Homo sapiens: one gene and its partner. The main gene of each other region encodes a partner of the protein of the gene in region 2 in a complex. Each region holds a gene or a part of one and is shown on either strand. Other genes may lie near its edges. The genes, in order: ANXA11 and TARDBP.

Evidence for each region.
Region 1: the proteins of TARDBP (region 2) and ANXA11 are in contact, whole or in part, in a cryo-EM structure (PDB 9FOR), measured with the Homo sapiens proteins. Residues at the interface, in NP_031401.1 of Homo sapiens: Ala328, Leu330, Ser332, Trp334, Gly335, Met337, Gly338, Met339, Ala341, Ser342, Gln343; in NP_001148.1 of Homo sapiens: Gly56, Met57, Ala59, Met61, Ser62, Gly63, Phe65, Asn69, Pro71, Asn72, Leu73.

Annotation. Positions count from the first base shown.
Region 1 is NC_000010.11:80,170,938-80,174,851, forward strand, and holds part of ANXA11 (annexin A11), read right to left. Parts: intron 1,933-3,914; 5' UTR 1,925-1,932; coding exon 1,870-1,924; exon of another isoform or gene 334-1,869; coding exon of another isoform or gene 1-333. UniProt on the Homo sapiens protein: Binds specifically to calcyclin in a calcium-dependent manner. Required for midbody formation and completion of the terminal phase of cytokinesis.
Region 2 is NC_000001.11:11,022,654-11,026,306, reverse strand, and holds the end of TARDBP (TAR DNA-binding protein 43), read right to left. Parts: coding exon 3,653-3,653; 3' UTR 815-3,652; downstream 1-814. UniProt on the Homo sapiens protein: RNA-binding protein that is involved in various steps of RNA biogenesis and processing.

The DNA of each region.
Region 1 (3,914 bases), on a different chromosome or scaffold from region 2:
TAGCCCCCTGCCAGTCCCCCACCACACGGGGAAAGGCAGAGATGAGAGCTCCCAGGTGGTCAGAAAGGGAGGCCCAGTAAAGCCTCGAGCCTCGAGCCTCGGGACACCACAGACCACATGAAAACACCAGGAGGAAAGTCTCCCCCTATCCCACTGGCAGAGGAGGGGAAACCTTCCCCTCTTCCCAGGGAGGAAGGTGGAGTTCCCCAAACACTCCCAAGACCCTCTGTGGGGTATTAAGGAGGCTGGGAGAGCCCAGGCAGGCTCTGCCCTCCCAAGTTCACCATCATGGAGCAGGAGGACAGACAAGGACAGACTGTTGTGGGACACCATGCTGAGCCCATGACAGAGGTGACCATAGGGAGCTCTGAGATTTCAGTAATGCGAAGGCACTGGCGGGAGGGGGTTTGGCTGTTTGCTATTACAAGTCTGTAAAAGGCAGGGAGAAGCAGGATAAGAGGCTGGAGGGACATGGGGCTGGGTCATGGTAAACACAGATACCAGTCCACAAGAGGACAGGAAGAAACAGAGGTGAAAAGCCCGCTCTGAAACCAGCAGGACCGGTATGTGCCCTGGGGCAAGGCTTTCACCCTCCTTAGGCTTGTTTCCTCAGCTTACAAATGGGCTAATGGTGAGTGTATGCCTAGACTGCTGTGACGAAGACTGAGTTAACACCTGCAGGGCTCAGCTGGGTGCCCGATGGGCATTCGACATCATCATGGGGCCTCTGGCCTGTTAGATGCTTTCCTCTACATGGCAGCTTCGGATCGGCTCTTCATCTCCAGGGCTCCAGACCCTCCAGGAAGAACCTTCCCTAAATTTCCTGCCTCCTCCTCTCTTGCTGCTCAGAGGCTGCTCAGCTGTGCTAGCAAAGGTGGCAGTGGCAGGATCTGGATGGCAGGATTTCTACTATAGAGAGAGAACCCAGGCCAGTGCCAGCCAACCTGGGGTGGGCTCATTCAGAGGGCAGTGGCCCAGCTCAGCCCCTAACATGCCCTGGGACAGCAGCTGAGCCACCTCTAGGTCTGAGTCTGTTCTTCACCTGCTGAATGGGAGGGAAGGTAAATGGCCTGCAGGTCTGGGGTGTTCAAACCACAGGACCTCAGCTCCAAAGAAATCAATGATGCCTAGGAGTCCCCTGGGGAGAGGGGCAGCGGCTCAGGCACCCTCAGGATGACCAGCCTTGGAATGACCCTTTTCTCCCCTTGGTCTCATGAGCCCTCATATTTCCTTTCCCACAGTGGGGACCAAATCTCATTTGAGGACCAAAAGGGGCCAGGGCCAGAGAAGACGACTTCTCCATGTGACTACCCACAGCTCCTGCAGAAAACAGGGAGTGACCTTTGACCCTTAGCATCTGCCTCCACTTCCTCTCTTGGCAAGGGGGATCTTGTTGCTGCAAACCCACACACCTTGAGCAGAGGGTAGGAGAGGTGGTAAGGGGCAACCATCACCTAGCAATGCTTTGGAGGACACCGTGTCGCTCTGCCTGCCTATCTCATCAGTATCCAGGACCACCTAATGAGGGAGAAATCCTTGAAGCAATTTTGCGGAGAAGAAAACTGAGTCTCAAAGTGACAGCATTTGCCCACTGTTACTAGAGAGTAAGGCAAGAGACCCAGCCCTGGGCCTGGTCCAGGGCTTTCTGGAGGCAGTTTCAAACCTAGGCCTCCGATGGCCTTAGTGTCATGCTCTTCTCCAGCCCCTGCCTCGGCTGGCTGTCCCACTACTCCTGTTGTCCTCTCCTCCCCTGCTGGGCCGTGCTGTGAGGGGAGGAGGGGAGTGAGGAAACTACTGTTCTCCCCTCTCCACTCCCAGCCACTGTACAGAGGCAGCATTCACTCTCCTCCCCACCCCAGACCCTCTTACCTGGTGCAGCTGGTGGGTAGCCACCTGGGGGCGGGGGATAGCCAGGGTAGCTCATGGTTAGATCTGGAAGAGAAGACGAAAGCACATTCAGGCTCTGCCTGAGAGCCCCTGCTGGCCCGTGGGACCCAGCTTCTTGAAAGGGCAGCCACCACCACAACTGGGACCCTGCAGAAGAAACTGCTGCATCTGCCCTGCTTGTCGCAGACCAGTTCACTGTCTCCTGCTGGTGCCTCCAGCTAGAAACAGTACCCACCAGCATGCTGCCTGACTTCTGGGCCAGGGCCACACCCCCGGCCCCACCCACAGTGACAGGATTCACTCCCCATGAGCCAGTTTCCTTGAAAGGCCCTCTCACTGAAGCTTTGCTCCTGCCTCTGCTGGCAAGGGTGCAGTGCGCCTCTGGGCCTGTTCTCCCACCTCAGAGGTAGAGACGCACTGCCTCATTCTCAGGACTCCAGGTCTGTCTATTTATCTTCCTGTGTCCTTATTGCCATCCCTCCAGCAACAGGGGAAGTCAGAGGCCCCTGTCTCTCTTCATTCTCCAACCTCTGGTTCATCAGGCAAGGGGACCTGGTAAGGTATGGAATCATCGTTCCTAGAAGCAAAAAGGGCCCTCAGGAGGTTCATCTGATGCAGGGTGAAGAACCAGGGCAAATGAGGCAGCATCACCCTGTTTCTGCAGTAGAGGCTGCTGATTAAGAGAAGTAAGTGATTTGCAGATCTGTCAGTAAGGGAGGAAGAGCAGCCTGGACAGGTGCCAGGTGAGACACCTGCTCTCACGAAGTCCCTCTGAACACGGATCCCTTGGCAATGTCCCCTGCCAGTTAAATTGTGAGGAGGGACACAGATCTGCTGTGACACCAGCCACATTGTGCAACCTGCCTGCTCTTGCTAATAGCAGCTGCTGCTGCAGTCTGCAGAGACACCCAATGGCAGGCGGACATGTGAGGAAACCTGCAGGGTCCCTCAACAATCACACCTGCTCGTCTCGAGTATGTGGCTTCTTTTTACACACTGGGTTTCACGCTGCAATGCATATCAGAATCACCTGATGGGATTGTTAAAACACATTGCTGGGCTCCACCACCAAGAGTTTCTGAGACAGTGGAACCAGTTTTTGCATTTGGAACAAGTTTCCAGATGATGTTACTGGTCCAGGGAACTCACTTTGAAGACCACTGTTCTAGCCACGCTATCCAACTATAAGAGTCTAGCTGCCCTTCATATCTATCTTGAAGAACTGGGCATATTGGGTTTTGTTTGTTTGAGACAGGGTCTCGCTCTGTCACCCAGACTGGAGTGCACTGGCACAATCATGGCTCACTGCAGCCTGGACCTCCTGGGCTCAGGTAATCCTCCCGCCTCAGCCTCCTAAAGACATGTGCCACCACACACAGCTAATTTTTTTTTTTGAGAGTCTTACTATGTTGCCGAGGCTGGTATATGCTGTTCTTTTTAAGTTTTTTTATTATTTATTTTTATTTTTTTGAGACAGGGTCTCACTCTGTAACCCAGGCTGGAGTGCAATGGTGTGATCTCGGCTCACTGCAACCTCTGCCTCCTGGGTTCAAGTGATTCTCCTGCCTCAGCCTCCCAAGTAGCTAGGATTACAGGCGCCCGCCATCATGTCTGGCTAATTTTTGTATTTTTAGCAGAGACAGGGTTTCACCATGTTGGCCAGGCTGGTCTCGAACTCCTGACCTCAGGTGATCTGCCTGCCTCGGCTTCCCAAAGTGTTAAGATTACAGGCATGAGCCACCATGCCTGGCCTACTTTTATTTTTTAAACAGCGTCTCACTCTATCACCCAGGCTGGAGTGCAGTGGTGCGAGCTCAGCTCACTGTAACCTCCGCCTCCTGGGATCAAGGGATTCTTGTGCCTCAGCCTCCAACAGGAGGGCGCAACCATCCCTGGCTAATTTTTGTATTTTTAGTAGAGATGGAGTTTCGCCATGTTGGCCAGGCTGGTCTGAACTCCTGGCCTCAAGTGATCTGCCCGCTGCGGCCTCCCACAGTGCTGGGATTACAGGCATGAGCCACTGTGCC
Region 2 (3,653 bases):
TTAAAGACAACATAAACTTCCCAAGGACTATTTGGCAATACATTTTAAGCAAGACCAGGCATGTTCAGGGAGGGTGGCAGGCCACAGACTGGCAATACATTTCAAAAGCCCTTAAAAAGCATGCATAATCTTTGACCTAGCAATTCCAATGCTAAGAATTTATTTTAGCAGTAAGGATATTCCCAGCAATTGGAAATAACCTGAATAATGTTCAAATTCAGAAGACTGAATCAAAACATGGCATTTCCACAAGATGAAAAGTGGCATTAGAAATAAGTGGTGACATTATAGAGAAATCTGTATTTTTCCTCTTTACAATGAACATGAAATACTTGGGCACAGTGATGCCTAACAAAAGCACACATCACACAACAGTTAAGTACAGAACCCTAATACACACTTAGGGGCTACTTTGCTCATACTCAACAACAACAAAATCATTCTTACTGTTACACATTATCTCTTGGATTACGGAGTAGTTAACTTCCTACTTTTTCCTACTAAGGACACAACTTAAGTGCTGATTTAACTTTAAAAATCTCATTTGGTTTTAGCTGGCTATTCCTTCCTAAAAGGTTTTAATAGCTAACATTCAAGTTTTTCAGTCTAACTAAAAGTTACCATTCCATGTAAAAGCTTACTGTGAGTCTTGGCCTCATTTCTCTTGTGCATATGAAGTACAACTTCTTGAGACTCAATTTTTATTATTTTCTTTTTTCTTTAGAGACTCAATTTTTAAAGGTAACTTTCCAGCATCTGTATATCACATATAAAAAGAAATCGTGTTTTTCCAGTAAGACTCCAGACACTAAACTGTGGTGTCAAAAAAAAATTTTATTTATCTGGTTCAAAAAATTTTTTAGAATGAATGCATTTAGATTGACCAAATAGATTTTTAAAAACAAATCTTTGCCAAATAGTTTAAGTACTTTTAAACTTCAAAATCTTCTTAGGGTAAAATAAATACCCGTATCTATGCAGTACCATAAACATGTTAATAAAAGGCCACTCAACATTGAAAGCCTTCTATGACCAGTAACTGAAATTTACACAAGTGTAAAGAAGGGATTAAACCATGCCGTTGACAAGTTAACTTACCCCTGGGCTCCTTGAAGGCTTGTCAGTTTAGTCTTTGGAGGTCCCCGAGTACCATTTTAAGTGTTACCATGTTACTGCTGCTGAGTAATAGTGCAAGTGCTAAAATGCAAAATTCAGATGGTACAGGGTTTGGAAATCATGCAGATTCAGATGCAGAAAAAAAAAATTAAAACAACTCAAGATCCCTTTACAGAGGAAACTGAATAATGAAACAATGTGGCGATTACAAGTCTAAAGGATGACTTCATTGATAAATGTTTATGTAACTTGCAAAATGACAAACCTATTTATCATAATCTAATTAGGTAAGGGCATTAGGTAAACTACCAACACAACAAATATCACATTCTTCCAACTAGAAAATGAGCTCAACTCTCACAGAATTAGTTACAAAAAAGTACAACAGAGAATCAATGTTATTGCTTTTACATACTTAACAATGCATTGTGAGAGTGTGAGTTTTGTAAGCGATTTTATTCAACTGTATTCAATGTTACCACATTCCCCCACCTCCTGGAGGACAAAGCCCATTCCACTTAACACTTCCAGACAGACAACCCACCCTAATTCTTAAAGCTATCAGGCCTCTTAATGGATTTCAGGCACAAGATAATTTGTGGTTTCTTCTACTTTATCCCTACTGCAATTAATTCCACTTTTCAAATCCCAAACTAGGAAGGTGCTGATATTCCCTTTTCAATTGATATGCTTTGCTACAAAGCATTAGAAAATAATCAACATTTTGCCCACTCCCCCAAATAAGAATCTTTTTAGAAGGCATGACTTCCCAATGGAGATTTACACAGGCCATGTAAATAGAACATCACCCAAATGCACAGAGGCACTAAGAAAAAGCCGGAGGGTACTGCTTACCATTTTAGGTGCGGTCACCCAGACTTATTCAAAACTAGATTTCAAAAGAAAAAAAAAAATTTTCACTTTGGCCAATGCAAGAACAAATACCAATTAAGTCTGGGTATCAGGTGTCAATGCATGACAGGTGATGAATCCATTTGACTTGAGACAACTTTTCAAATAAGTTTATTTGAAGCAAAATAAACTACTGCCAAGAAACTTTATGAAAGTTCCATCTCAAAAGGGTCAAAAAAGGGGAATTAACTGCTATGAATTCTTTGCATTCAGGGCTGCAAAACAAAGACACATATTATTTAAATCAGTTTTATTTAAGAATTTCCAACAATGACAACTCTTATAAAAAGCATCCAAGCACAGGACACAGAACTGCAGCAAACAGCATTCTTATGGGTAGCTAACAGACATTAGAACTTCCACCCTTCTTTGAGACACCTGAGCTCACTGGTGAACTCTGCTTCAAGTCCTCCTGCAAAGCACACCACAAGCTCAGTCCATGTTCTCAGCCCATCAGCTTCAGTTCACATTGCCACACTTACATATCAGTAACAGAAGAGAACACACACCATACAGCATTCACAGCAGTTGACAAAGGGGTAGGGGGAGTACAAGTATCATTTCACTTAACACATTCATCTAATGTGGGTTATCTAAGAACAAAAACTCACTTAAAAGTCTTCCAACAGATGTGGATGTCCTTTGAATGCAAAAAACATTCGTACATTATTTGCTATCATTGCTCTCTGCACACTCTCTCACCAAAGCCACAGGATTGAGAGACACATCTCGCCAAGTTAAAAAATATCCATTATGCACCACCAAGTCTCTGCACGCGCTCTCTCCTTTTCTCGCTCATACTAGCCTTTCATGCCTCGGCACCACCATCAATCCCACACAAGGTTTCAAAAGTTCAGACAGCCTTCTGGTTCCATATCACAGCCTTGCGTTCATAGCGTTGATACGACTCCATGAAATAAAGAGTAGCGGATAAAAATGGGACACCCACCGTCAAAGACGCGGCCTGTGATGCGTGATGACGAATTCTTGAATGAGAAAGCATGTAGACAGTATTCCTATGGCAGAATATTTACAGCACTACTTTCAATGAAGTGCTTCTTCCATAAACATTTGAAATGAGATGAACTGCAGAGATTAAATGAAGGCTTCATATTGTACTTTTGTGTATGAGGGGAGACAAGTGTTAAAAAACAAAACAAAAGAACCAAACACTGTGACACCATGATCTCCTAAAAGGAGATTTTCTTAAGGAAAAAAATCCATATGGTGGGGTTCAAATTAAAACAAGGGGTAAAGAATGTAGTTCTAATCAATGGTTTCCGTTTTGAACATGCAAAGAATTCACTTGACAAGTCCAGGGATAAAATATTACAGGAGAAACCTTTTGATATCAATTGTAGTGTGTTGGTTTACCAATCAGGCAAACAGCAGTTCACTTTCAACCACTCAATATTTCAACCTTTCATGTAACAAAACTTATAAAATTCCTTTAGCTCTTCCTTTTTCTAAAGAAAAATGTCAAAAATACTGCTGAATATACTCCACACTGAACAAACCAATTTTGAAAATTCTTAGTACATATGTATTTTACAATATACTTACCATGAGTTTAGAAAAATTTGAATTCCCACCATTCTATACCAACCAACCACAACCCCACTGTC